Linked DNA regions of Homo sapiens. The protein of the gene in region 1 purifies or fractionates together with the protein of each later gene. This does not show direct contact. Each region holds a gene or a part of one and is shown on either strand. Other genes may lie near its edges.

Region 1 (5,705 bases):
AAGTTTTTTATACCATGGATTATGGTAAAAAGTTTTGATAACTGCTGCCATAGACATTCTTGGGAAAGCTAGAAACCCCAAATCCTAAAATTAGAGGGTATAGTTATATGGGAGCCTAAAGTTGTATAAGGTTATGAATGGGCAAATAAATGCATGCATACTTCTTCAGACCTCTGGAATGTTTTCTCAGCCCAAATAATACCCTTAATGCCTCCATCTTAGTGGCATAAGTCATTGGTTCATGTTTATATTCTTAGGACACAGCTATTTACTATGAGCAAAAGGGTGGAAAATAGTTCTTCAGATACAGTATTGGCAAATGACGCTAGACCGGGTGGAAAAAAAACTTATGTGCTACAGTTTCTTACGTTTCTAATGTTTGAAGTCTAAATCTATTTTCAGTCATTAAAAAAATTCTTAGAGTGATAAAATTTAAGATAACAAAAGGTAATGGTTCGCATGTCCCAAGCTTAAGTGAAAATTGGTTGTCCATTTACAACTTGATACAAAAACCTAACCCTTTGATGTCACTACAAATAGATTGTTATAATTAGTCAGAATAAAAACTCAGCAGTAAATGGCTTTATTTGGTGATTTGGCTGTATATGCTTTATTTCTAATAAGCACATATGTTGTTCCTATTATATTAACCACTGAGCTCTTTGTTGGAAAGTAATGCTTTTATTTTCATTTTAATATTTTAACATTTTTCTTTTAATTGCAATTAGACAAATGAGATTTTCTTTATATAGTTTTAACAGTCAGAAGTATTTTACTTTTAAAATCTATGAACTAGTTAATGGACAATATTTTAATAATCTGGTATATTAAATTCAAAGTTTAACATCTGGCAAAACTTTGCTTCACAAATTCACTTTTTTAGAATGATAGGAAATATATACAACTCAGAATCCATGTTTAGACAAATGCCCTTTTCCTTTCCTCAACATAAAAGCTTTAAAAAGTGCAGTATAAAAGTTTTAGATATGAAGGCACTGCATAACCTGCATCATATGGCTGTCTTGCTTAGCTGCAAGAATAATGAAAATATTCTACCTCAATTTTATGGAGCATAAGAAAATTTTTTGAGGAAGGACTTAACTCTCAAAGAAAAAGAAACCTTTTACCCCATTTAGTTAATGAATTCCTTTCCAAGATTGCTTTTCAAAGATTTGTTGGAAAAGCTATCTAGAGTATGTCAACCACAAATATGCCTGATCTCATTCTGCATGAGTGTCAGAGGAAATGGGGAAGAGTACTACAGGTGTGAAAATATATATATTTCCAAAATAGTAACGTATCTATTATAATAAAGCTAAATATACCTTTCTAAATCCATGGTTTTTATATAAATACTGCCAATAACATGATCTATTAAAAGAATTTTTAAAGGTCATGGTATTTTTAGAAATCAAATGAACCAATTTGAGCCATTGTAATCCCCTATTCTTAAACACAGGGAGTTTGTATTTTCTCCCGATATTGTATTTGGTCTTGAATTCACTGGACAATAATGATGTATGATTCAAGAAATGCTCTGATATTCTAAACTCTGTTATAAGAACAAAAACCATAGCCAGGGGACCTTATTAACAATTAGCCATATTTGTTCTTCTCTTACCAAACAAACCAAATGCTGTCCAACATCTCATGAACTATAATAGTAGCCATAAGAGGCTTCACGGTGGCTTGGAAAATTGGATCCTAAAGTTCTTGGTAGCATATAGTTGATTTCAAATCCTCTTTTTAAGGACATGCCAAAAAAGAATGGAAATCTGCCCCTTAAATTAAAATGATACCATATGTCTTCACAGGAAGAAACATTTTAGTTGAAGTAAACTTTGTTCTTTCAAAGGCCAGTAAAATAGTGGTCCAAAGACTGTCTGGGAGGCCAAGACATCTTTACAACCTGGTCTAATGATTCCTGTTTCTTTATAAGTGCTTTCATTACATATAAAGGAGAAGAAAATAATATATATGCTTTAATCAGATTAGTTTCAGAACAAATAAAATAACACATTAGAGAAAAAAATTACTTAAAAATAGTTGTATTTATATTCCACAATTTGTTCAAATACTGGTTTTCTTATAAACTTTCTACAGGATGTTTTTAAACAAATTCTTCACATTGTGTTTTGACTATGTACTTACGGAATTTCAGGGAAATAGTTCTGTGTATTTTTAATAGCTTAATTTGTACTAAAGGGATGGTAGGTGGTCACATGCAGTCCATGTGGGATTCTAACATGACATTTAGTGAGTTTTCTGATGTGGACCATCCCTTTGATGCTGAAGGTAATGCATCTGTTGAAAGAAGTGACTGTAGATTTGGATTACTGCTCTCTGCATCTTCCAGTTTTTCTGTGTTATCTTCCCAATTAATGTGGAATCTTGTGACCCTGGGATTAGATGCCAAAATATTCCTTTGAAGCTAGAGGAAAAAGGAAACATACAAATGGTAAACACTAAGAAAGTTAAATCACCATATACAAATAGAAGCTTAATAAAATGGTTCATGTTAGTACTCCTAAAGGGCTAAGTTCATATACAAAGGTATAATTCAAGTTAAGTACCTTAAATATAACTAATAAGATGTAACGACTAGGGCTGTAGCAAAGAAGTTATTTTAGATTAACAGAAACAAGATACGGAGAATCTGAGGGGATTCATCTGGCTTTTTAACTATTTAACTCCTATACTTCTGTTTTCTAAAAGAAAGAATCTCCTCATTTTTGAAAATGAATGCTTCAGAAGATGCTTTATTTAACAAGCTACTATGTTGTTTAGATTGGTATGTTTTCAAAGGAAAATGAAAAATTGTCAAATACAACTTATTATTAATGGTTTCCTACACCTTTTAAAGATGGCTCATTCTTAGAAACAGTCCTGTTTCTTTTGTGCTATATAAGGTGCTTCAGGGATAACAAATTGGATCAATGGAAGGTACAACAAGGGTGAAAAATAGTCCGGCCTTATTATCAGAAAGAACATGAGAACATTCTATTCTATTGTCATGTAATTTTTCTTGCATGGTTCAACTTCATTTACTCTGCACTCTCACAAAATCACCAGTTACCAAACTGTTATAGTTCCCAGTGAAAAATCAGAAAATACTAAGTATCTTTAAGAATGCTGAATCCTAGATTTCAGCTTCTCACTCAGAATTTAAGCTGTTTTCAGTACCAGAAATATTTAAGACTGTTAGTTTAACTTCTAAGAATAGCAGATAAAGCGTATAGGTGTTTTGAGATAACCGTATTCATAGGAAAAACAAACATAAAACTTTCATAATTTTGGGAAGAGTTACACACAAAAATATCATCATTGAATAATTAGTACAACAAAAATGCATTTGTTTGTCCTAAAGGTTGAAATGAACAGAATCATGATGGGAATAATCAATATGGGAAATGCTATAAAGAAAGCCATAAACAAAGGCCTGTCTTACAAGAAGTACTTTCTCTGGGCGTGGTGGCTCACACCTGTAATCCCAGCACTTTGGGAGGTCAAGGTAGGCAGATCACTTGAGGTCAGGAGTTGGAGACTACCCTGGCCAACATGGTGAAACTCCACCTCTACTAAAAATACAAAAATTATCTGGGCGTGTTGGTATACACCTGTAGTCCCAGCTACTTGGGAGGCTGAGACAGGAGAATCGCTTGAACCTAGGAGGCAGAGGTTGCAGTGAGCCGAGATCATGCCACTGCGCTCCAGCCTGAGCAACAGAGCAGGAAACCATCTCAGAAAAAAAAGAGGTACTTTCATTTTTCTAAACCAGAAATGCTCAAGGTGTCTGCCTACATTAATTACTAATGACTCATCTGAAGGTAGGGTTTGAAGTCATCCATGGTAATGGAACAATAATTAGTTTGCCCAGTTGGCATAAGGACCTCATATTTATTTTATCTCAAAGCCATTTTAATAGTATACTATGAAATTGCAATAGCAACTGCTTTAAAAATTGCATAGTAAAAGTAGTTAAAAAGGAATAGTAAGAACATTACCTTAGAAAAGTCTGGTTTTACTGGTGGATTTTCCCTTAATTCTGTCTCAGTATATTCATTATTTACATAATAGCCAACTCTAATAAATTCTTGTCCTCGATAGGTACAAGTAATTAGCACAACAGTTACGCCTACTGCATCTGCATCTGGAATGAGTCCTGGATTAGGTGCATCAGCCTAGAATAAATTAAAAAGAAAAGAAACACACACACACAAAAGGCTGTTAGTGGCAGGCAAGACTGGAGTTTCAGTTACCTAGAACCATCAGTTGAGGATGCAACAAGAAAAACTTGGAAATCATACTGGGAAGGAAAATGCTCATTTCTGACTGACTTATAATAAGCTGGAAAAGACAGTTCATGTTTTGCCACAATATATGTAAGGACCCTTGATACTTGAAAGCATGACTACACTTGTAAAAGGAAGAAATTCTGGCTACACTGCATGGTGGTTCATGAAAGGATTATACACTATTCATTATAAAACCTTTATAGTCAGCAATTGATTTTAACCTTTTCAGTCATAATTTTCAGACCTAAATTAGTAAGTATTAAATGATCTCCTCATAGACTGTTGGCCACAAATGTTTATTATACCAGTTTCCCTCTTCAACCCAGGATACTTATATTCTCATACCCACTCAACCACCCCCACAGGTATTCTAATAGTAAATTAGTATAAAACTGAAAATGAGGTTGGGTGTGGTTGCTTACACTTGTAATCCCAGCACTTTGGGAGGCCAAGGTGGGTGGATCATGAGGTCAAGAGATTGAGACCATCCTGGCCAACATGATGAAACCCCATCTCTATTAAAAACACAAAAATTAGCTGGGCATGGTGGCGGGTGCCTGTAGTCCCAGCTACTTGGGAGGCTGAGGCAGGAGAATCACTTGAACCGAGGAGGTGGAAGTTGCAGTGAGCTGAGATCGCACTACTGCACTCCAGCCTGGCGACAGAGTGAGACTCCGTCTCAAACAAAACAAAACAAAACTGAAAATGAGATGGAAATAGCTACATAGCAGATTTTCAAAAAATATTAATAATCCTCTATTATGAATAGTTACTTTGCTAGACTCTACAATATAGTATGCTCTTTAAACCACACATAATGTGGAAACCAGTGAAGGTAAGGATTGCTTTAGGCAGATGTCAAAGACCTTGTTTTAAATCAAGCTATTGTAAGGTGAACCTTGAGGAATGCAGAAAGTAAACTGAGTTAGACTAGACTAAGAGCATGAGCGAAGGGCAGGGCCCCATCCGTGGTAGGGTGCAGGTAGTAATGAGACGACCGGATGGAAGGAGCCAGACTGGGGAACACAGGCAGTGATGGCTGAGGCATCTGAGGCAGCCATTCTGGGTGGTAAATGGATCAAGTCCCAGCAAATTAGCTTACCTGTTGCCAGGGCACCAAGGAATATTCCTGGGCCTAGATGAGCACTTTAGCCAATGCCTTAGCTTGTGAAAATTGAAGACTGTTGTTTACTGTATGCCTAACACAGGTAGATGATACAAAAAGGCATAAAATCGCTACCTAGTGTCCTAGGCTAAAAACCTCAGTCAGCTTCACTCCCTTATCTCCTACATCTAGTCAGTCTCAACATTTTTTTCATTTCTGGAGGCTGAATTCATGTCATCTCCTATCTGGAATATTGCTTAGAATTTTCTAACTGATCTCCCCAGCTCTAGCCTATCATTTGCACT
Region 2 (7,417 bases), on another chromosome or scaffold:
AGCCTTATCTCCTGCAGAGCTGATGTGGCCTGGCCACCAAGGGCATGGGAAGGCCCCATGTTTGGTTTTCTGCTGACCACAAAGAAAGACCCCACCCAGCCCCCAGCACATCCTTGGGAGCAGCTGCCTCTGACTCTGGCACCACCAGGGTGAACTTGGGCACCTCAGGGCTGCGCTTTGGGGCTGTCCTCCCTCATGCTCCACCCACAGGCGCAGAGGGTTGGGCTATGGCTCTACATCTCTTTGGAAGCCCGACGCCCTCTAGCGTAGTGTTTCTGGGTCCAAGGTGATGGTGTGGGGCGCACGGGTGGGGCGGGCTTGCCCTGTCACCTGTTTGGTTGTGTGTGTGAGAGACTGACTCAACGGAGGGACAGGCCCCAGCATGTCTCTGGGGTGGGGAAGGTGGGAGGCTTGTTCTTCATGGGGACAGCCAGGCTGGGACGCCAGGGGCCTGGAGGCAGACGTCTCTGCAGGTTGGGGGGCCACGTGGAGAAAGGAGACCCGGGGCTGGTTGAGCTCCTGCAGCCCCACCTCCGCAGTCCCGGGGCAACCAGCCCTGTGGGAGTTCAGGATGGGAGGGGCTGGCCTGAGGGCAAGGGCAGTGTCCACACAAGGCCCTTCCAGATGTGGGATGTGGGTGCCTCAAGTCTGCAAGTGCGGCCCAGCGTACTCAGCAGGCATCTGCCCTGTGACCATGACATGCAGCAGCTGAGCCTTATGGCCTGGGGGAGCCAGGCACCTGGGAGGACCACGGTGGGTCCTCGGCCACCGGGAACTGGAGCACGGGCTTCCCGTGGCGTTGCCAACGTGGGCCACACATGACAGGACCGCCAAACACACGGCTTGTGTCCAAGACCCTGAGACATCTTGACGTCCCGACCTGCTCCTTTGTCTTCTCTGAGGATGGGGGCGTGGGGGTCCACACTCCGCAGATGTGGGGGGCATAGCCTAAGCCAGGCCCCACCCTTCTCCCTCCCTTGTCTCATCCCCACCCCCTGGTGAGCACCACATCCCTCATTTATAAAAATAGGCCAGGCACGGTGGGTCACGCCTATAATCCCAGCACTTTGGGAGGCCGAGGCGGGCGGATCACCTGAGGTTAGGAGTTTGAGACCAGCCTGACCAACATGGTGAAACCCCATCTCTACTAAAAATACAAAAATTAGCTGGGCGTGGTGGCGCGCGCCTGTAATCCCAGCTACTCAGGAGGCTGAGGCAGGAGAATCGCTTGAACCCAGGAGGCAGAGGTTTCAGTGAGCTGAGATTGTGCCACTGCACTGCAGCCTGGGTGACAAAGCGAGATTCCGTCTCAAAAAAATAATAATTTTTTAAAGAGCAGAGCAAGAAGTGTTTTTACCATTGTTGGAAATGACTTATGTGTCACTTTTGTGGTCTGCGTTCTCTTTGGATATTTTCTGTATGTAACAACTGTAGTTTAAAAAAATATTCCAACCCATGTTTTGTCTGTGTTTCCTTACCAGAAGACAGACACACAGCTGGGCCTTCTGGGCTCTGCTGGCCTCCCCTGCTGCCCTCAGCCTGTGGCAATCTGCACCAGGCCTGCAGCCCTGCACAGCACTGCCTGACGTGTGTACCTTGTCTGGTTACTGGGGAAACAGGCACAGAGAAATTGGGTTGTCAGCCGGGCATGGTGGCTCACGCCTGTGATCCCAGCACTTTGGGAGGCTGAGGCGGGTGGATGACCTGAGGTTGGGAGTTCGAGACCAGCCTAACCAACATGGTGAAACCCTGTCTCTACAAAAATACAAAAATTAGCTGGGCGTGGTGGTGGGCATCTGTAATCCCAGCTACTCAAGAGGCTGAGGCAGGAGAATCACTTGAACCTGAGAGAAGGCGGTTGCAGTGAGCCAGAATCACGCCATTGTGCCCCAGCCTGGGCAACAAGAACAAAATTCTGTCTCGGAAAAAAAAAAAAAAAAAAGAGAGAAATTGGGTTGTCTCTGAAGGGGAATTCGGCTTCCAGGAGCTGGGCTGTCCTGTGGACCCTGGGGCTGAAGGGGATACTTAATCGTTGTCCAGGTAGCTCAGGGAGCCCCTCTGGTGTCCAAGCCACCCTGTCTTCAGCTGTTCATCTGAGTCCTCTGATTCTGAATCTCACTCCCCACTCCCTCCCTCAAGCCTCACTGTGCCCCTCACACACCTCACCAGCTTGCCCTCCAAGTAGTTGCCTTGGCTCAGAGCCATGCTTTGGATGGGCAAGGGGTTGGCAGTGCAGACCTCCACAACCTGTCCTCACACCCAGGCCTGCCTGGATTTCCTGCCTCCTGCAGCTTGTGACTGCACAGGTGTGCAGGCTTGGCCTGGTCCCACCCCTGCAGCCTTGGAGGCACCGAGGCCCAAATCTGCCCAGTCCAGGGGCCACGCCAGGAGGCCAGCGCTCTGCCGTCAGCCTGAGGAGGGCTCCAGCAGCCTTTACTGGACCCAGGGACCTGTCAGTGCATCACACCACTCTCTCCCCAACAGATCTCTCTGGCTGAGTTTTGCCCAACGACTTGCTGTAATTACGATGGAAATTAACTCATCTATCTTCCACTCCTGAGGCTCCTCAGTTGGACTCTGTGCACCCAGCCTCCTCTGGGGCCTCTGGGAAACCAGCCACTGCACCTGAGTGCAGTGCTGGGTGTGCTGTGTAGCCGGGAGTCAGATACCCAAGGCATGGCAGGTGTTTGGTCCTCAAGGTAATGGGGGATAGCAAGGGTATTTTAGAGGCCTGGGTGCCCCATGTCACAGGATTCTAGACATAATTTTGCAGTTGTTTTCTCTCTTTCTTCCTTTTTTTTTTTTTTTTTGAGACAAGAGTCTCGCTCTGTTGCCCAGGCTGGAGTGCAGTGGCGCCATCTCCGCTCACTGCAAGCTCTGCCTCCCGGGTTTACGCCATTCTCCTGCCTCAGCCTCCCCAGTAGCTGGGACTACAGACACCCGCCACCACGCCCGGCTAATTTTTTGTATTTTTAGTAGAGATGGGGTTTCACCGTGTTAGCCAGGATGGTCTCGATCCACTGACCCCATGATCTGCCTGCCTCAGCCTCCCAAAGTGCTGGGATTACAGGGGTGAGCCATTGCGCCCGGCCCTCTCTTTCTTCCTTTCTTTCTTTTCCTCCCTCCCTCCCTTTCTTTTTTTTAAATAAAGATGGGGTATCGGGCTGGGCATGGTGGCTTACACCTGTAATACCGGCACTTTGGGAGGCCGAGGTGGGCGGATCACAAGGTCAGGAGTTTGAAACCAGCCTGGCCAGCATGGTGAAACCCCGTCTCTACTAAAATGCAAAAATTAGCCGGGCATGCTGGCACGCGCCTGTAGTCCCAGCTACTTGGAAGGCTGAGGCAGGAAAATCGCTTGAACTCGGGAGGCGGAGGTTGTGGTGAGCCGAGATCACACCATTGCACGCCAGCCTGGGTGACAGAACGAGACTCCGTCTCACACACACACACACACGAAAGATGGGGCCTCACTATGTTGCCCAGGCTGGTCTCGTACTGCTAGGCTCAAGCGATCCTCCTGACCGGGCCTCCCATAGCGCTCGGATTACAGTGCGGGCCACTGTGCCCGGGCTACTTCTGCAGCTGAAGCACAGGTTCACTGACTCTTCCGAGAATACAGCTGGCATACACATTGCTGAAACAATACTTGTTCACTATGGAAAGCACATTCCCCTCCCAAAACAGTCCTTGGGGCCGAGTCCCCAAATGTGACCCAGCTGCGTTCTGCGGAGGAGGAGCGCGCCTGACACCTTATTACGTCCCCACAGCCAAATGCTCGTGAATTTATCGTCAGTCTATCTGGACACTACGTTCGTTTTTAATAGTTGCGCCTGTGAGCAGGCTGTGTGTGTGAATTTCGGGAGGAATTGGGGCGGCGGCACAGCTCGTCCACCATGAGTAGCGCGGGCGGCACGGGGGCTGCAGCCCAGAAGACCCCACCCAGGGCGCGCTGCGACCCCGGACGGGCTGGCTCCGGGCCCCCGGCCTCCCGCGTCCCCGCCGCCTACGAGGAGGAACGGGGTCCCCACCAGGCACTCCCCGGGCCGGGCAGAGGGCTCCACGCGCGGGCCAACCCGGCGTCCGGGAAGACGGCCCCTAGGGTGGGACGCCCCAGTTGTCGCCGCCACCCCGCCCCAGCTCCTCCCGCACGAGAACTCCGAGGATGCCGCGGGCGGGCCGACCGTACTTCCCGGAATGCCCCGCGCCCGCCGCCGCCGTCGAGGGGCGGGGCCTGCGTGTCGGCGGCGAGGGGCGGGGCCTGCGTGTCGGCGGCGAGGGGCGGGGCCTGCGTGTCGGCGGCGAGGGGCGGGGCCTGCGTGTCGGCGGCGAGGGGCGGGGCCGCGGCGCAGCGCGGGAAGTCCGGATCCCGCGGCGATCCGAGCATGAGCCTGGAGCGCGAGCTTCGCCGTAAGTTCCTCGGGGACCCCTTCCTCCGGGGGCGCGGAGGCTGGGGAGGGCTTGGGACTCGGCCCCGGCCCCGGACCCCGCCGCGGAGGCCCAGCCCTCCTCTTCCTCCCACAGAGCTGAGCAAGGCGAAAGCCAAGGCGCAGAGGGCCGGGCAGCGGCGCGAAGAGGCCGCGCTGTGCCACCAGCTGGGGGAGCTCCTGGCCGGCCATGGTGAGCGCCGGGACCAGGAGGCGGGAGGCAGGGCCGGGGCCCGGGCCCGGGCCGGGATCGGGGGCCGGGGGGCGACGGGCTCTTCCGGCAGACGCCGCCCCAGGGCCGCCCTCGCACCCGCGACGCCTGCCAGGCCGTGCTGTGCCCCCGCCTAGGCCGCTACGCCGAGGCTCTGGAGCAGCACTGGCAGGAGCTGCAGCTTCGGGAGCGCGCTGACGACCCTCTGGGCTGTGCCGTGGCCCACCGCAAGATCGGAGAGCGCCTGGCCGAGATGGAGGACTACCCGGCTGCCTTGCAGGTGCGGGCGCCCTCACTGGCCTCGTCCAGCCCGGTCGGCCTCTGGAGCCCTTTTCTGAGGAGGGAGGCCTGGTCTTCGCCGTCAGGAGCCTCGGGCTGGAGGGGACACCTGACCTGACGCAGCCTTGCCTTCACCGCCCCGGGCCAGTCCTCCGGTGGGGACCCCACAGCCTTTCCTGGGACTGGGGCAGGAGTAGGTTTCCTGGCACCAGAAACCATTACTGAACGTTATTTTAGCTGTGTTTGTGTTGGGGGAGGTCAGGCCCCATCCCAAAAGCTCTCCCTGACCCTGGCTGCTGGAGGCAGGACTGCAACCCCCCCGCCAACTCCCAGCTGCCCCTCCCCACGTGACAGCGTTGGCTGCATACAGCGTGAAGCCACTGTCACCACAGAGAGCCCTTGGCATGCAGAGGAGGGGCACGTGTCTGGCCTTGGCCTGCTCTGTGGGGGTTAGGGGGAGCAGGCTCTTTCCTTAGCAAGAACAGGGTCTCTGGGAATCTGGCGGTGCCGGTTTGCTTGAGGCGGAGTCGGCTCACAGCAGTGACTTCCTTCCACACTCAGCACCAGCACCAGTACCTGGAGCTGGCACATTCCCTGCGCAACCACACGGAGCTGCAGAGGGCCTGGGCCACCATCGGCCGCACCCACCTGGACATCTATGACCACTGCCAGTCGAGGGATGCTTTGCTGCAGGCACAGGCTGCCTTTGAGAAGAGCTTGGCTATTGTGGATGAGGAGCTGGAGGGTGGGCAGACCCCTCCGCGTTTTCTGCCTCCTGAACTTCGGGCCGAAGAGGCTGCAGCCCAGCACCCCCGCAGCCTCCTTGGGCAATCCCGTCTTCTGGAGCCCTCCCTTTGCAAGGCTCTTGTGTGAGGGGTGCATGCCCCGCTCAACCTTTCCCCTGGAGATCGTCAGCTCTTTATCCACTCTGTGCTCCATCTGCCGCAGGACACTTGCACCCACCTCGGGAGGAGGGAGGGGGTAGGAGAGGCGCTGCACAGGCCCCAAATGGGGCCCAAAGCTGGAAACCCCATGTGGGGAGGAAGTGGCTGAGTGTTTGGGGGGGTATCTTCCAGGGACACTGGCCCAGGGAGAGCTGAATGAGATGAGGACCCGCCTCTATCTCAACCTGGGCCTCACCTTTGAGAGCCTGCAGCAGACAGCCCTGTGCAACGATTACTTCAGGAAGAGCATCTTCCTTGCGGAGTAAGGCCCTGCCCCGCCCCAGGAGGGAGTGGAGTCCCTTGTTCCTGGAGGAAGTAGTTAGGGGAGTATTTTTCCCAGAGTCCTCCTGAGAGAGCAGTCTGGCTGGGCCTCATCCCCCCACCTCTCACACCTGTGCCACACACTGGGAGAAGGCCAGGCATGGTTAGGGCCCTGAGACCACAGCATGGCAGGGCTGGGGCCCGTGTGGCATCAGCAGCTGTCATGGACACTCCTGGGTGCTCAGTGGTCGTCACCCCTCTGCAGGCAGAACCACCTTTACGAGGACCTATTCCGCGCCCGCTACAACCTGGGCACCATCCACTGGCGCGCGGGCCAGCACTCCCAGGCTATGCGCTGCTTGGAGGGTGCCCGGGAGTGTGCGCACACCATGAGGAAGCGGTTCATGGAGAGCGAGTGCTGCGTGGTTATTGCACAGGTACCCGCTGTGCGTGGCTCCGAGCTCAGGCTCTCGTAGATTCGGGCCTTGGGGATTCTGCAAAACCTTTGCTGTCCTTTGCTCTCCAGGTCCTCCAAGACCTGGGAGACTTTTTGGCTGCCAAGCGAGCCCTGAAGAAGGCCTACAGGCTGGGCTCCCAGAAGCCTGTGCAGAGGGCAGCCATCTGTCAGAACCTCCAGCATGGTGAGCCTGGGGGTGCGAATGGGGCCCTGGGAGGTGTGTGCAGGGGTGAGCCTGGGGGCGGGGTGGAGTCCCGCCAGGTGTGTACAGGGCTCTCTCCCTCACAGAGGAGGCCTGAGCACCTGTCCTTGGAGGCAGCAGCTTCAGCAAGAGGGGCAGGTACCCCTACTTCCTGACAGGAGAAGACCCCCTTTTTTCTCTGAGCTCAACACAGTGTGTCAGGGGCAATGAAAGGGCGGCCAGGAGACCAGCTGGGCTTTTATTTCGCAGCCACCATCTTCATTGGCAAACTGGAGACAGTAGTTGTACCCCTAGCCTCCCAGGGTGGGAGAGGAGATGGCACGCGTGGTCCAGGAGTGCTGATGGCAGAGACCACCATTGGAGGTTGGCAGCCGTCAGCCCTTACTTTGAGCCAGGCACCATCCATGTTGTGTTGTTTTTTTTTCTTGAGACGGAGTCTCGCTCTGTCACCCAGGCTGGAGTGCAGTGGCATGATCTCGGCTCACTGCAAGCTTCGCTTCCCGGGTTCATGCCATTCTCCTGCCTCAGCCTCCCGAGTAGCTGGGACTACAGGTGCCCGCCACCACACCCGGCTGATTTTTTGTATTTTTAGTAGAGACGAGGTTTCACCATGTTAGCCAGGATGGTCTCGATCTC
Region 3 (7,446 bases), on another chromosome or scaffold:
AAGATTCTACATTTAGGAGAAATAAGCTTTAGTGATCTATTCTACAGAATGGTGACTATAATAAATAGTAATGTGTTATACATTTCAAAATTGCTGAGTGTATATTTTAAGAGTTTTCACTACAAAAAATGTTAAGTACGAGAGGTGACGAATTTGTTAATCAGCTTGATTTAATCATCTCACAATGTAAATATAAATCAAAACATCACATTGTACCCCATAAATTTATACGATTGTGATGTCCATTAAAAATAAAATTAAAAAAAGAAGGTTTACATGCAAAGCTTTCTCATTGCTGCTTATGGATTGGGACAAGCCTAAGAAGAGTTTCTTGTTCATTATTTTTCGTTTGACAAATATTTATTTACCACGCCCCAGTGATTCTAAGTCTAAGCCTCAGTGATTCTGGTCTAGGTCATTTCCTTTATTCACTGTCCCCAATGCAGAGCTCAAGTGGCTTAGCCTCAATAGCTAGCAACAGGGTAGGTTGGTCTTTTAGAAATCCAGAGGGACACCCCACAAAGGTTACATATTAACACATTTGTAAGTATAAAACAGTTACTTCACTTTTCCTAATAAAATATCAGAATAGTCAATGCAAACAAAGTACGAGTTCAAAGAACAGTGTATTTTCTATTAAAAGAATTTTCCTTCAACTCCCTCTCACACAATTGCATTAAACAATATTTTAAAAGAAATTTCTTAGAATTTTATCACATTAAGACAACTCTTCATTTGTATTACTCCTCTGACATTTTTTTTTCTAAAATGCATGCGTTTTTTCTATTTATATGAGCACTATGCATCCAATGGAAAAAATTTTAAAATAGGGCAATATATGAAGAATAAAACAACAATATACTAGTATCAAGAGACAACAGCTATTAATATGTTAGCGTATTTTCTTCTGCTCCTAATAATGACTGGATGAAAACAATTTGGCCAGAAACAAAATTGGTATTCCTTATGCTCCTCTTTTGCTTGTATAATTTTCAGATCTTTCTGTAACAAGCTTTGTTTTTGTAATAAGAAAAACAAACAATAAAGGAGAGTATAAAAGAGCAGGGTCTCTGTATGCCTTGTTCATCCAGCTAGCTGCAGTTTCCAGAACACTGCTTGGCTCACAGTAGGTACTTCAAAAATTTTTTTGAATGGCTAAAACTTTTTTGCCCCCAACCTAGTGAACCACAGCTGCTAATGAACATGGAATCACTCTGCAGGTATGTCTGGGTACTATGTCTCTGATTCCTTTTAGTAAATAGTTTGTTCTATCCATAGGATCACTTTCGCTGTCTTAATATAAGACTGATTAAATTCAAATTCCAACTCCAACACTCACTAGCTATGTCACCTTGGCAAGAAACCTCACCACTTTGGCTCAGCTTCCTCATGTGGTGAGCACCGGTCCAGGTGCTGAGGGCACAACAAAACAAGAATCCTACCCTCTAATTTACATTCTAGTGTGCAAGAAAAAGCCTGTGGACAAACATCTGTCAGATGGCGATAAGCGATAAGCGCTGTGAAAAAACAGAAAATAGAGTAAAGGGGATAGGAGGTGATTACCTGTGGGGGTGGATGAGGGCGTGTTGCTATTTTATAAAGGGTAGTCGGCAACAGCTAAAGGTTTAAAAACTAGGCCCAGCACGGTGGCTCATGCCTGTAATCCCAGCACTTTGAGAGGCCAAGGTGGGCAGATCCTTGAACTCAAGAGTTCGAGACCAGCCTCGGCAACACGGTGTCTCTACTAAAAACAAAACAAAACAAAATCTGGGAATGGTGGCCTGTGTCTGTGGTCCCAGCTACTTGGGAGGCTGAGGTGTGAGGTTTGCCCGAGCCCAGGAGGTTGAGGCTGCAGTGAGCTGTGATCGTGCCACTGCACTCCAGCCTGGGTGACAGAATGAGAGCCTCTCTCAAAAAAAAAAAAAAAGAAAAGAAAAGAAAAAAAGAAAGAAATAGAAATTTAAAAATCATAGTGTAGTGTTTTTCAAACTTCAAGTTGTGACTAAGCGCAATCATGAAGTCCATTTAGAATTTGCATTTTCGAAAAAATGAAATAAAATTCATCCCTTCCTTGTGTGTGTGCACCTGTTTGTGCCTTACTCTATTAGCTGAGCACAGGAGAGACAAAAAGAACAACCCCAGAAAAGTGCCAGAAAAGATTAGGACCAGAGCTAAGAGGCTGGGGAGAAAGGCAAAACAAACCCAACAGTTAAGCAATCCAAGAGAGAAAACATATCACTTTTTTTAATGCAAAAAAAGTAGTATGGAAAAAAGGCCAAAAAATTAAATAGAATTGACAGATTCAATTTAACAACAACAAAAATGCAAAACTAATGAAATATGCTGTACATGACACTTTCGGATTAAATGCATGATAGTGTGTGAATATTCTCAGAAATTCCCAAAATATTTGTTCCATATTTCCTTCTCTGACCCTCACTGAGGTAAACAGTATCAAGATTTTAAAGCCAAGTCGTCTGGGAAGATTTCTTTTCTTTCAGTCCTTTAAACATTTCTTTTAATAGGTTTTGGAAATCATGTCTACTTGTCAGAAATGAGTACACTGTATTAAAGGGATACAAATCATCTCCCAAGCCGCCTCTTGCTTTGCACACGAGGTTCTCTTTGAAGCAGAGCCATAAGGTACAATTATTCTAGAACAAGGTGGGCAAACTACAGTCCTCCGACTAAATCTAACCCACCACATGTTTTTGTATGACCCTCGAGCTGAGAATGGTTTTTCCGTTTTCAAGTGATAGAAAAAAAAAATCAAAAGATTTTGTGACCCGTGAAAACGATTTTAGTGTCTGTAGTTTTATCGGAACGCAGCCAAATGCATCCATATTTTCCATGGCTGCTTTGCGCTGCAAAGCGACAGAGTCGAGCAGTTGCCCCCAAAGCCTAAAATATTTACTATCTCGGTCCTTTTAGAAAAAGTCTTGCCAACTAATGTCCTAGAATATGAGGGCTGTATTGCTTAAACACCCTTCCAACTCTCTTCCCTCTCTAGCCACCCCCTCAGCCTTAGGCACTAACAAGATTCCTTGACCCAGAATGGGGGGAGGGCGTTATAATAATGAACGGTATTGTATCGGAAACAACACAGTAAATATCTACAGAAGGGAATGTGACTGGTTCTGCCACTGACTAACGTCTGGGTTTGCGTCCCGGTCAGAAAAGTGGGCATGACAGCGGCATCTGCAAGATAGCATCTGAGCATGAAGGCACTTGGAAAGGTATCAAGGCAGCAAATGTTCCGGGGGTGCTTTTGCAAGAGGAGCCTCTCCCGGAGCTGGACGTACACTTCGGTTCCCTTTGCACGCAGGCACCTTGGTCGCCTCCCCCAACTCCGTCCCCTCTGCTCCTGGCCCTCATTTTCTTCTATTTCCCTTTTGGCCTTGCAGCCAGCTTTCTCCTCCCCCGACACACTCCTCAGGGGCTATGAAGTTCCTGAGCAGAGCAGGGCTCAGGTAAGCAGGCCCAGGGTAGTTCAGCCCTGCTCTCTCCAGCTCCGCCAGCTTGGGGTGGGGTCGCGCTGGGACCCCTGCAGGTGACAAAAATGACTCAGCAGGGGCCGGGGCTGGGATGAGAAAGGAACGCCAGTGCAGGGACAAAATCCCCTGAAGCGCGAAGAGGCCGCAAACCATCATCTTAAGGACCCAAACATCGAACAAATTAAAATGTAACAGTGTAAATCGGCTTCGGCCCGCCGGCGGCCTGTGCCGCCACAGGCTGCACATTTAGCCTAACAGGGCGGCCCGGCGGCTTTTGCAGGCAGAAAACGCCCGCGGCCTCTCCAAAAGCTCTCCTCCGTCTGAGACCAGCCCCACCTCGGCCCGACCGGGCCCCAGGAAAGGCCAGTCGGCTGGAGGAGAACATTTCAGGGGTGCAGAGAATTGCATGTCCGTGATTATCAGGGAGACTTTGAAGGCACAGTAATCTCTCGAGAACAGGAACCATTTTCCCCTCTTGCTCTGAGATTTTGCTTGGCTAAGCGGCGGCAGCCTCCCTGCCCCCCTCTCACCCCCACCACCGCTGCCGCTACAAGCAACCACGCCCCGCGGGCCCCAAGGCTCGCCGCCCCGGGGCTCGCGGCCCCCACTCAGCCGGCCAGCCGCGCCTCCATCAGCCCCGCCCTCGCGCGCCCCCATCCGCCCCGCCCCCTCGGGCCCTCATCCGCCCCGCCCCCGCGCGCCCCATCCGCCTCCGCGGCCGGCCCTGGGAGCGCCGGGCGAGCCCTCGCGCCTGCGCATCGCCAACTTCCTGCCGCGGCACGCTCCGCCCACCCCCAGAAGCCCGCCTCCGAACGCCGCGTGAAACCCGCCCGCCGCGCGTCATTGGTCTCGGCGCCGGAGCCGTTGGCTCCCAGACCCGCCTCTCCGCCTCCTCTCACTTTTCCCAGGGCGGATGCGCCTGCGCTCAGCTGCCTGGGCGGGCTGGGAGGCGCGGGTTGAAAAGTCTCGTTCCAAGTTTGGAGAGAGAGAGAAGAGCGCCTCAGACCTCGGTACCCGCGAGCGGGGAGGAGGCAGGAAAGAAGGACGCGGCGTCTGGGGAGCACCCAGGCAGCAAGACGGGGCCCGGGCTTTCGACAGTGGGGAGTGTGACGCGCTTGGGAAAGGCAGGAGCGCCAGCGGTCGGGCTGCTCTTGGCTAACGAGAGGAGTCCGAGGCGGCGGCGAGGGGCGAACGACCCGACGCAAGATGGCGAGTAAAGAGAGTAAGAGGCCCTGCGGGGCGGCGCGCGCCGGGGCCGCGGGGGGCGGCGGGCGCGCGAGGCCGCGGCACGCGCCGGCGAAAGGCGCGAATTGGCGTGCGGAGCAGGGGGCGGGGCCGGGCGCGAGACTGGGCGCGCGCCTCGAGGGGCCTGCGCGGGACGGGACCGCCGCGCCGAGGGCTCCGAGCACTTCCGGAGCCGGGCGCGGGGCCGAGGGCTGGGCCCCCCTCTTCCCTTCCCTCCTCCAGCGGCTGCGCTCCCTCCGGCGCCCTCGGCCCCGGGGCGGAGGCGGCCCCCGCCGCTGGGAAGCGAGCGCCGCGGCTCTTTCTACGCGCGCGCGCGCGTTGACCGCCTCGGGGTCGCGGCCCTTGTCCGGGGGTTGCTGGGGTCCTCAGGCCTATGGCTGCCGAGGCGGGCGTCGTGGGAGCTGGGGCCTCCCCTGATGGGGATTGGAGAGACCAGGCCTGTGGGCTTCTGCTACACGTGCATTTGTCTTCCCGACTGGGTCGCGCAGCCCCTGTACGTACAGGTCGTCATCTTAGAACAGGTGCGAACAGCTGTAACAGGGTAAACAATTTCCATGTCCGTGTAATTGACTACCCAACATGGTGTACGCAGGGGGTATTGATCTCAATGGAAAAAATAGGCTTCCTGATTGTTAGTATTTTCTCCACCTTCTGGAAGAGCAGTTAGTTGTCCGTGTCCAAATTAGAGGTAAAAGGAAAGAGTACATGAGGTGTGGCCATCTTGAGGTGACCTCCAATTTCTGACTTTGATCTATCTCAGCCACTTAATCGTGTGGGCTTTCTCCAAATTTCAGTGTTTGAAGATACTGTGGAGGAGCGTGTCATCAATGAAGAATATAAAATCTGGAAGAAGAATACACCGTTTCTATATGACCTGGTTATGACCCATGCTCTTCAGTGGCCCAGTCTTACCGTTCAGTGGCTTCCTGAAGTGACTAAGTAAGGGTTTCTGGCAACTTTTATTTTGTTTAAATTTAACTGTCGTTCTGAATTTCCTAGTTTTGGCGTTTTATGCATAGAACATAAGTATGTAATCAGCCCTTGCATGAGGTGGCAGGTGGTTTTTATTTTCAAAACTTACGTGATTTGTGGGATGATTTCTGGTGTATAGTGTGGTGGTAAAAGGGGAGAAAGAAGCTGTTGTGAGATTAATCGTGTTTGGAGGAAGCACTGAATATATTTGACATTTCCTGGGCTTGAATGTAGAGCAGCATCTTTCTGGGCCCAAACTAATGCGTTTCTTTAAAACTTTACTGAAAAATAGAATATTTACGGAAAAGTTCACACATCTTAAGTGTTGTATGGCTTGATAAATTTTTACAAAGTGAACACACGTAACAGTCATCCAAGATAAATACATTTTAATTGGTAAAGGGAAAAAGACCTTGTCAACAATTGACCAAAGAAAAGATGTTATCGGCTTATGGAATACACTTTGAGATTGCTGTTAGTCTTCATAAGAGTATTCTTTTCTGTTACATCTGCAGTTTCTCTGGTAATAATTGCTGGCATTTATTGAGCACTCAGAACAGGGCCTGGCACATCTGAAGAATCTACGTCCTGTTGTTTGTTGTAATCCTCATAATAGTACTATGCTGTAGGTACTTTTCATCATCCTTGTTTTACTGATAAGGAAACTGGGAGTGAGAGTTTAAGTGCCATCCCAAGATCACACAGCTGGTCCCTGCATTAGACTGCCTTTCTCATTCACTTGCACCTTTTCTAGTAGGAACTTGACCATGTACTTTTAAAGTGTATTAAATATGGGGTCAGGCACAGTGGTTTATACTCCTGTAATCCTAGTGCTTTGGAAGGTTAGCTTGAGCTCAGGAGTTCAAGGCTGCAGTGAGCCATGATTGCGCCACTGCATTCTAGCTTAGCCAACAGAGTGAGACCGTGTCTCTCAAAGAAACAAAAAACAAGCATCTTAAATTTGGGTGTTGCGGACATATAATTTAAAGAGGATTAAATGAAACTCTAACCTAAAAAGAGGATTTTGCAACAAGTTATAAAAATAATAAGCTAATTTTGGCTGGGTGCGGTGGCTCACGCCTGTAATCGTAGCACTTCGGGAGGCCGAGGCAGGCGGATTGCCTGAGCTCAGGAGTTCAAAACCAGCCCAGGCAACAAGGTGAAATCCCATCTCTACTAAAATACCAAAAAAAAAAAAAAACCGGGCGTGGCAGCGTGTACCTGTAGTCCTAGCTACAGGCTACAGGGAGGCAGAGGCAGGAGAATTGCTTGAACCTGGGAGGCGGAGGTTGCAGTGAGCCAACATCGCACCACTGCACTCCAGCCTGGGCGAGAGCGAGACTCCATCTCTTAAAAATAAAAATAATTATTATAATAATAATCTAATGTATATAAAACTGCTCTTACAGTGGCCGGGTTCTCCATATGCAAACATTGATTTCTATACAGATAGGAATTTCCACTAGGCTTCCCAAAAATCTAAATATAAATGTACAGATGTGGGAAGAGTAGAGAAGAACTAAATGATGGAGACTTGGAAGCATTGACGTTTACAGCCACAACAGATTGAAAAATAGATTAAGCATCATATACTCGGGTATTCAAGTTCTGGTTTGGAGCATCGTGTGCATTTGCCTCTTTGGTCTGTTAAGCAGATTTAAAATGTATTAACTAAATTTACCTTTTGGGGGATCTTTTTGACCCACTGTAACATAATAGAAAACAGCAGGGGCTT
Region 4 (7,830 bases), on another chromosome or scaffold:
GATCATGAGGTCAGGAATTTGAGACTAGCCTGGCCAACATGGTGAAACCCTGTCTCTACTAAAAATACAAAAATTAGCTGGGTGTGGTGGTGGGCGCCTGTAATCCCAGCTACTCGGGAGGCTGAGGCAGGAGAATTGCTTGAACCCAGGAGGCAGAAGTTGCAGTAAGCCGAGATCGCACCACTGCACTCCAGCCTGGGTGACAGAGCAAGACTCCATCTCGAAAAAAAAGAATTATCCACCCCAAAATATCAGTAGTGCTGAAGGTGAGAAACTTTGCTGTAACTCTGCGCCTGGGGAGATCTTGTGTGACCAACTCCTGACTTGCTCTTTATAGGTGGAGCAGCTGCGCCAGGCCATTGAAGAACTGTACTACTTTGAATTTGTGGTAGATGACTTGCCAATCCGGGGCTTTGTGGGCTACATGGAGGAGAGTGGTTTCCTGCCACACAGCCACAAGATAGGACTCTGGACCCATTTGGACTTCCACCTAGAATTCCATGGAGACCGAATTATATTTGCCAATGTTTCAGTGCGGGACGTCAAGCCCCACAGCTTGGATGGGTTACGACCTGACGAGTTCCTAGGCCTTACCCACACTTATAGCGTGCGCTGGTCTGAGACTTCAGTGGAGCGTCGGAGTGACAGGCGCCGTGGTGACGATGGTGGTTTCTTTCCTCGAACACTGGAAATCCATTGGTTGTCCATCATCAACTCCATGGTGCTTGTGTTTTTACTGGTGGGTTTTGTGGCTGTCATTCTAATGCGTGTGCTTCGGAATGACCTGGCTCGGTACAACTTAGATGAGGAGACCACCTCTGCAGGTTCTGGTGATGACTTTGACCAGGGTGACAATGGCTGGAAAATTATCCATACAGATGTCTTCCGCTTCCCCCCATACCGTGGTCTGCTCTGTGCTGTGCTTGGCGTGGGTGCCCAGTTCCTGGCCCTTGGCACTGGTGAGGTGATAAAAATGAATTGGGGATTTATCTCATGGGATAGAACTAGGTAGGGAGTTTGTTCAGAAAAGGTCTGTGGATCTTCTCTTCTATCCAGAGGGGCAGACCTAAGGGATAGGGTGGCTCTAGCAAGAATGCACGTATTCTATTGTAGATTTTCTGGATAGCAAAACTGGGGGAGATTGTTTTGCTGGAGGCCCTGGGTCTGGGAGAAGGGGGGCTGATTCCTCTGAAATTGCTAGAAGAGACACAGGTGAGGCCTAACTTGGGCTTTCCGCTACCGTCCTGCAGGCATTATTGTCATGGCACTGCTGGGCATGTTCAATGTGCACCGTCATGGGGCCATTAACTCAGCAGCCATCTTGTTGTATGCCCTGACCTGCTGCATCTCTGGCTACGTGTCCAGCCACTTCTACCGGCAGATTGGAGGCGAGCGTTGGGTGTGGAACATCATTCTCACCACCAGTCTCTTCTCTGGTGAGGACTTTCCTTTCCCTGGTGGGCCTTTCTGGACTTAGGAATGAAGAACACATTGTGGCTGGTCACAGTGGCTCACACCTGTAATCCTAGCACTTTGGGAGACCGAGGCCGGAGGATCACTTGAGCCCAAAAGTTTGAGACAAGCCTAGACAACATAGTGAGACCCTCTCTCTATAACAAAAAATTAGCCGGGCATGGTGGTTCACATCTGTAATCCCAGCTACTTGGGAGGCTGACCCAGGAGGATTGCTTGAGCCTGGGGAGCCAGGGAGGTTGAGGCTACAGTGAGCCATGATTGCACCACTGCACTCTAGCTGGGCTGACAGAGTGAGACTGTCTCAAAAAAAAAAAAAGAACACATCATAGAACTTGGGATAGAGTCAGGATGAGGCTTGAAGGGAAGGAATATTGTAAAAGAAAGAAGAAAACCAAAAAAAAACAAGAATGCATTTCTTTTGAATAGTTTAAAATTACTAAGCCCTCAAAATGTCCTAGGCAGTGTGGAAAGCACTCAGCAATAACTGTGTGAAGTAGGTAATATTTCCATTCCACAGATGAGGAAACTGAACTAAAGGCTGCTTAAGTAACTTGTCTGAGATTACACTCCTAAAAAGTAGTGAACTAGGTTTCAGCAGTCTGACTTGTATTCTCACCCATTACACTAAAATAACACCCTTGAATTTTTATTTTGAAGGTGGGCCCACTCTAGGCTTTCAAACCAGATTGCCCTTTCAAAGGCAGTAGTAGTCTCTGTTCTGAACCCTTCTTGTTCCCAATTCTGTGTGTCTGATTTTTATCCCATCACATTTATATTTGAACCAAGGCTTTCTGAAAACAGGGCCTTAATCCAAAGGAATGTCTCATGCTAGGAATTACCAACTCCAAGGCAAGACAGGCCCCTGGAGGCAGATGGATTTGTGCTACTCTCAGATTATGTAGTAGCTACCTGGATCCTTAATGACACCGGGTTGGGGGATGGTGTTGGTAAGATAAAGAGCAAAGAGTCCGGGTGTGGTGGCTCATGCCTGTAATCCCAGCACTTTGGGAGGCTGAGGCAGGCAGATCACCAGGTCAGGAGATCGAGACCATCCTGGCTAACACAGTGAAACCCCATCTCTACTAAAAATACAAAAAATTAGCCGGGCGTGGTGGCGGGCGCCTGTAGTCCTAGCTACTCACTCGGGAGGCTGAGGCAGGAGAATGGCATGAACCTGGGAGGCGGAGCTTGCAGTGAGCAGAGATCGCGCCACTGCACTCCAGCCTGGGCGACAGAGCGAGACTCTGTCTCAAAAAAAAAAAAAAAAAAAAAAAAAAAACACAGAACAAAGAATAATGGGACCTGAAAGGGTGGAGGTGAAGGCAGTCGACTCTGCAGGGACATCCAGGAGCATGAGTCTGCCGTTAGAGTGGCAGGCTGCTTCAGCCCCCTCCCCTTTTGGTCCTGGATGTAAGTGGGTGCCCTTAGAGATGTAGCTCCTAGTGTTGACCCTCCCTCCGGGGGCCCATCCCTGCAGTGCCTTTCTTCCTGACGTGGAGTGTGGTGAACTCAGTGCATTGGGCCAATGGTTCGACACAGGCTCTGCCAGCCACAACCATCCTGCTGCTTCTGACGGTTTGGCTGCTGGTGGGCTTTCCCCTCACTGTCATTGGAGGCATCTTTGGGAAGAACAACGCCAGCCCCTTTGATGCACCCTGTCGCACCAAGAACATCGCCCGGGAGATTCCACCCCAGCCCTGGTACAAGTCTACTGTCATCCACATGACTGTTGGAGGCTTCCTGCCTTTCAGGTATCCTCCCTTTATTCCATGGCTATTACTGTCAGGTTCCTGACCTCAATTTTTCCTGTCCCTACTCATCCAGTACCCTAACCCAACCCGTTGATCCCTGGTTCAGTGGTACCATTCAGAGATCATTAAATGGTTCCTCCTATCCCCAAGCAGGACTGAGCTTGAATGATATGAGAGTGTCTCACTTATAAAGCTCTCCGGAGACATTTCCCCCTTCACCTTCCTGGTTTCTGACTTTAATGCCTATGGACATCATGTGGGGTTTAAAGCCCATTTGATGACCCATTTACTTTGTTGAATACCTCTTTGTGCCAGGCAAAGAATAAAGTGGAATAAAATGGACAAGATCCCTGCCCTCAATCTATTAGGGAAGATATTCTTGAAGTGAGAGCGGCTAATCATAGGCAAAAAATCCCCATGAAGCCAGGAGATCTGGGGCAGAGAGTGGAGTGAACTCACTTTTCACAATGACCCAGCAACATGGGAGAGGGTGGGGGCTGGATTTCAGCCCAGCCACTGTGCTGATGGTGCACAGCCCTTTAATGCTGTGTATCATCTCTTTTCTTCACAGTGCCATCTCTGTGGAGCTGTACTACATCTTTGCCACAGTATGGGGTCGGGAGCAGTACACTTTGTACGGCATCCTCTTCTTTGTCTTCGCCATCCTGCTGAGTGTGGGGGCTTGCATCTCCATTGCACTCACCTACTTCCAGTTGTCTGGGGAGGATTACCGCTGGTGGTGGCGATCTGTGCTGAGTGTTGGCTCCACCGGCCTCTTCATCTTCCTCTACTCAGTTTTCTATTATGCCCGGCGCTCCAACATGTCTGGGGCAGTACAGACAGTAGAGTTCTTCGGCTACTCCTTACTCACTGGTTATGTCTTCTTCCTCATGCTGGGCACCATCTCCTTTTTTTCTTCCCTAAAGTTCATCCGGTATATCTATGTTAACCTCAAGATGGACTGAGTTCTGTATGGCAGAACTATTGCTGTTCTCTCCCTTTCTTCATGCCCTGTTGAACTCTCCTACCAGCTTCTCTTCTGATTGACTGAATTGTGTGATGGCATTGTTGCCTTCCCTTTTGCCCTTTGGGCATTCCTTCCCCAGAGAGGGCCTGGAAATTATAAATCTCTATCACATAAGGATTATATATTTGAACTTTTTAAGTTGCCTTTAGTTTTGGTCCTGATTTTTCTTTTTACAATTACCAAAATAAAATTTATTAAGAAAAAGGCTCATGCAGTTGGAGGTTTTGGTCTGGATATAGGAACTCGAGCCCTGCTGTTAAGGGCACGGTCCTTTATAAAGCCGAGCTGGCCACTGAATGCCCGAAGCTCGAGTTCTCCAACCCAGCTTGGGAACTCCCGGCGTGGGGAACCTACATTGCCAGAGTCGGGTTTCCGCGATTCAGCCGGTGCTCAGCCTAACGGAAGTGGAGGAGCCGGACCTCTTTGTGGGAAGCGAATTGAATCACCTTGGCAACCCGCGGGGCGTGCAGCAACGCCCTTTCCTCCGGAAGTGGGTGTCAGAACCTCCACGTGCTGTCCCTCCCCCTCCCCTTTTCGGCCCAGTAGCGGCGGCTCAGTTGCTGCCATGGAGTCAGCCGGGCTAGAGCAGCTCCTACGGGAGCTGCTGCTACCGGACACCGAGCGCATCCGTCGGGTACGGAGCAGGCGTAACCGGGCCAGGGCGAGCGGGAGGTTGCGGGAAAGGCCCAACTCTCACCCCTAGCTTCCCCCCAGGCCACGGAACAGCTCCAGATCGTTCTTCGGGCCCCCGCCGCTTTGCCGGCTCTCTGCGACCTGCTAGCCTCGGCGGCCGACCCCCAGGTGAGACCCCTGACTCTCCCCTCCGAGCTTCCCACTGTACGCCACCGGTCAAGCCCCAGTATTCGCCCACTGCGGTCCGCTCAGCACCTTCCTGCCCGGACCCCCACGTGCTTGCTTCCTCGTCCTAGATCCGCCAGTTTGCGGCCGTGCTGACCCGCAGACGACTGAACACCCGCTGGCGACGGCTGGCGGCGGAGCAACGGGAGAGGTGGGCTGGGCCTGGGGTGGGGCGGGGCCAGGCGGAGACTTTTCTTGGGCAGGCTGGGTACCAAACACCTGCCACCTGTGTTCCAGCCTCAAGTCCCTGATCCTGACGGCCCTGCAGAGAGAAACAGAGTAAGTACCTACCCACTTCTCTCGGGATCTTGACGACTTTGTCTAGGTTTCTGCCTTCCTTTTCGGCTCCAGGCTGGGACTTGTGGGGCAGGGACTTCAGTTCTAGACGCAAGGTGGAGTGAGGATTTTAAGGCTGTTTTGAAGACTAAAGTTCTTGAGGAAGGGTGATGATGATCTGCCAAACCCAAGTCAGAAGAATAAGACTGAAATTCAGGCTAAGTTAGACTGAACTTACCAGATTACATGCCCACAGTGCTGTTGGGCTCCCTCTGAGCTGCTGTCTCATGTGTCCCAACTTGGCAAAGACCCTGTGCCCACACCTCCTGAAAGTTTCTGTCCTGGCTGCCCCATTGAGCCTGGCCACTGTGTGCAGAGGAAGGTATTGAAGGGTGATTGGAGGAGATCTCTCCTGTTTGCAGGCACTGTGTGAGCCTCAGCCTGGCCCAGCTCTCAGCCACCATTTTTCGAAAGGAAGGCTTGGAGGCCTGGCCACAGCTTTTGCAGCTGCTTCAGCACAGTACCCACAGCCCCCACAGCCCAGAGAGAGAGGTACCATCACATGGTTGGCAGGAGGGAGGGCCTGAGAGGCTGGATAGACCTTGTAAGCTTGCTCTCCCATCCTCTATTCTTGGACAGATGGGGCTTTTGCTGCTAAGTGTGGTGGTGACCTCCCGGCCCGAGGCCTTCCAACCCCACCACCGGGAGCTTCTTCGGCTTCTGAATGAGACTCTTGGTGAGGTGGGCTCTCCTGGGCTGCTCTTCTACTCCCTGCGCACTCTGACCACCATGGCTCCCTACCTCAGCACTGAAGATGTGGTGAGATGTGGGCCCTCGTTATCTTTGACTCCCTTTCCTCATGCCTTCATGTCCTCACCCGTAAAAGTTACAAAGCTGCTTTGGATTCTTTACCTGCCTGTGGCCCTTCCTGACAATTGAGAGGGGATGCTGTAGGTGGGCCTGGCTGTTATGCCTGGGCTCCTCCTCGCAATTCAGGCTGTGAGGAAGCTGCCAGCTGCTGGGGTGTGAGATTGGGCTGCATCATGCTCTCTGTGATGTGTCCCTCAGCCTCTCGCTCGGATGTTGGTGCCCAAGCTGATCATGGCCATGCAGACTCTGATCCCCATAGATGAGGTGAGGACAGGTGGGCAGGAGCTCTGTTGGAAGGAGAGTGCAGAAGTGTCCAGTTTGGCCCACTGAAGAAGAGCATGGTAACCTTGTGCCTTGTTTGTCTGTCAGGCAAAGGCCTGTGAGGCCCTTGAGGCTTTGGATGAACTGTTGGAGTCAGAGGTGCCGGTCATCACCCCCTACCTCTCTGAAGTCCTCACATTCTGCCTGGAGGTGAGCCTGGAGTGGACATGGCCCCTGCTACATGCTCTGCTGGGACTCTCCTTCCCTGTCGCTGATTTTTATTATTCTGTGGACAGGTAGCTAGAAATGTGGCCCTGGGCAATGCGATACGCATACGTATTCTCTGCTGCCTCACTTTCTTGGTCAAAGTCAAGAGCAAGGTAAGTGAGTGCCCATTGACACACATCACCCCACCCCCATCTCCACCCTTAGTCTCACTCCTGGGGCTTTCGGTCCATCTCAGGGTATCTAAAGTACTGTGGGGGTTCAAGCCTTGGCCTGGCCTCACCCCAGCTCCTGCCTGGGAGGTTGGGAATTTTCTGTCAGACCCCTTATGGCCTGGAAGACTGGAATTTTTAATGTGAGCCCATCCTGGGAGCAGATTCTTAGGGACACTGTTCCACCTTCTCTGTCAAGGCCTTACTGAAGAATCGTCTCCTGCCACCCTTGCTGCACACCCTTTTCCCCATTGTGGCTGCTGAGCCCCCACCAGGCCAGTTGGATCCCGAGGACCAGGATTCAGAAGAGGAAGAGTTGGAGATTGAGCTGATGGGGGAGACTCCCAAGCATTTCGCTGTACAAGTGAGATGTGGGGCAGGACAGAGGGGGAAGGTGTTAGGTGGCTGTGGGACGTTGGGGAGGCAGAGATGGAGTCAAGCAAAGTAAGTCTCCCCATCCCATCTCAGGTTGTGGACATGCTGGCACTACACCTGCCCCCCGAGAAGCTCTGTCCCCAGCTGGTAAGTGTGGCTCTGTCCTTCTGGTGTCCCTACCTCCAAGTGTGCCTAGTCCCCCTGAGGCCAACGACGTTTAGACCCTGGGAGGTGTGAAGGCCTATTACCACAGGAATGGGCAGGCTCTTGCTGGGGTTTCAGAAGCGTGCCACATGCTTCCCTAGATGCCCATGTTGGAAGAGGCTTTGCGGAGCGAGAGCCCATACCAGCGCAAAGCTGGACTCCTGGTGCTGGCCGTGCTGTCTGACGGAGCTGGCGACCACATCAGGCAGAGGTATGTATTCCCCTGTCCCAGGGTGAGGGTTGCCCACAGGGAGGACCATGGCTGTCCTGGTTTACGCTTGTTGTTCAAGCTTAT

Evidence for each region.
Region 2: the proteins of ASF1A (region 1) and TONSL purify together in Homo sapiens (affinity purification with mass spectrometry; 5 studies listed by BioGRID and IntAct, with this or other methods). This does not show direct contact.
Region 3: the proteins of ASF1A (region 1) and RBBP7 purify together in Homo sapiens (affinity purification with mass spectrometry; 6 studies listed by BioGRID and IntAct, with this or other methods). This does not show direct contact.
Region 4: the proteins of ASF1A (region 1) and IPO4 purify together in Homo sapiens (affinity purification with mass spectrometry; 5 studies listed by BioGRID and IntAct, with this or other methods). This does not show direct contact.

What each region holds. Positions count from the first base shown.
Region 1 is NC_000006.12:118,904,128-118,909,832, reverse strand, and holds the end of ASF1A (histone chaperone ASF1A), read right to left. Parts: intron 4,182-5,705; coding exon 4,005-4,181; intron 2,432-4,004; coding exon 2,219-2,431; 3' UTR 662-2,218; downstream 1-661. UniProt on the Homo sapiens protein: Histone chaperone that facilitates histone deposition and histone exchange and removal during nucleosome assembly and disassembly.
Region 2 is NC_000008.11:144,441,383-144,448,799, reverse strand, and holds the start of TONSL (tonsoku-like protein), read left to right. Parts: upstream 1-4,359; 5' UTR 4,360-4,385; coding exon 4,386-4,410; intron 4,411-4,524; coding exon 4,525-4,620; intron 4,621-4,775; coding exon 4,776-4,918; intron 4,919-5,478; coding exon 5,479-5,662; intron 5,663-5,993; coding exon 5,994-6,123; intron 6,124-6,387; coding exon 6,388-6,559; intron 6,560-6,648; coding exon 6,649-6,763; intron 6,764-7,417. UniProt on the Homo sapiens protein: Component of the MMS22L-TONSL complex, a complex that promotes homologous recombination-mediated repair of double-strand breaks (DSBs) at stalled or collapsed replication forks.
Region 3 is NC_000023.11:16,867,308-16,874,753, reverse strand, and holds the start of RBBP7 (histone-binding protein RBBP7), read left to right. Parts: upstream 1-4,391; 5' UTR 4,392-4,700; coding exon 4,701-4,716; intron 4,717-4,890; exon of another isoform or gene 4,891-5,112; coding exon of another isoform or gene 5,113-5,260; intron 5,261-5,533; coding exon 5,534-5,678; intron 5,679-7,446. UniProt on the Homo sapiens protein: Core histone-binding subunit that may target chromatin remodeling factors, histone acetyltransferases and histone deacetylases to their histone substrates in a manner that is regulated by nucleosomal DNA.
Region 4 is NC_000014.9:24,185,777-24,193,606, reverse strand, and holds the start of IPO4 (importin-4), read left to right. Parts: upstream 1-4,790; 5' UTR 4,791-4,819; coding exon 4,820-4,888; intron 4,889-4,968; coding exon 4,969-5,055; intron 5,056-5,183; coding exon 5,184-5,263; intron 5,264-5,349; coding exon 5,350-5,391; intron 5,392-5,810; coding exon 5,811-5,940; intron 5,941-6,027; coding exon 6,028-6,207; intron 6,208-6,456; coding exon 6,457-6,522; intron 6,523-6,627; coding exon 6,628-6,729; intron 6,730-6,815; coding exon 6,816-6,899; intron 6,900-7,155; coding exon 7,156-7,320; intron 7,321-7,424; coding exon 7,425-7,478; intron 7,479-7,636; coding exon 7,637-7,746; intron 7,747-7,830. Other genes in the region: TM9SF1 (transmembrane 9 superfamily member 1 isoform a precursor), read left to right, coding at 338-959, 1,251-1,436, 2,954-3,227, 3,799-4,192. UniProt on the Homo sapiens protein: Nuclear transport receptor that mediates nuclear import of proteins, such as histones, RPS3A, TNP2 and VDR. Serves as receptor for nuclear localization signals (NLS) in cargo substrates.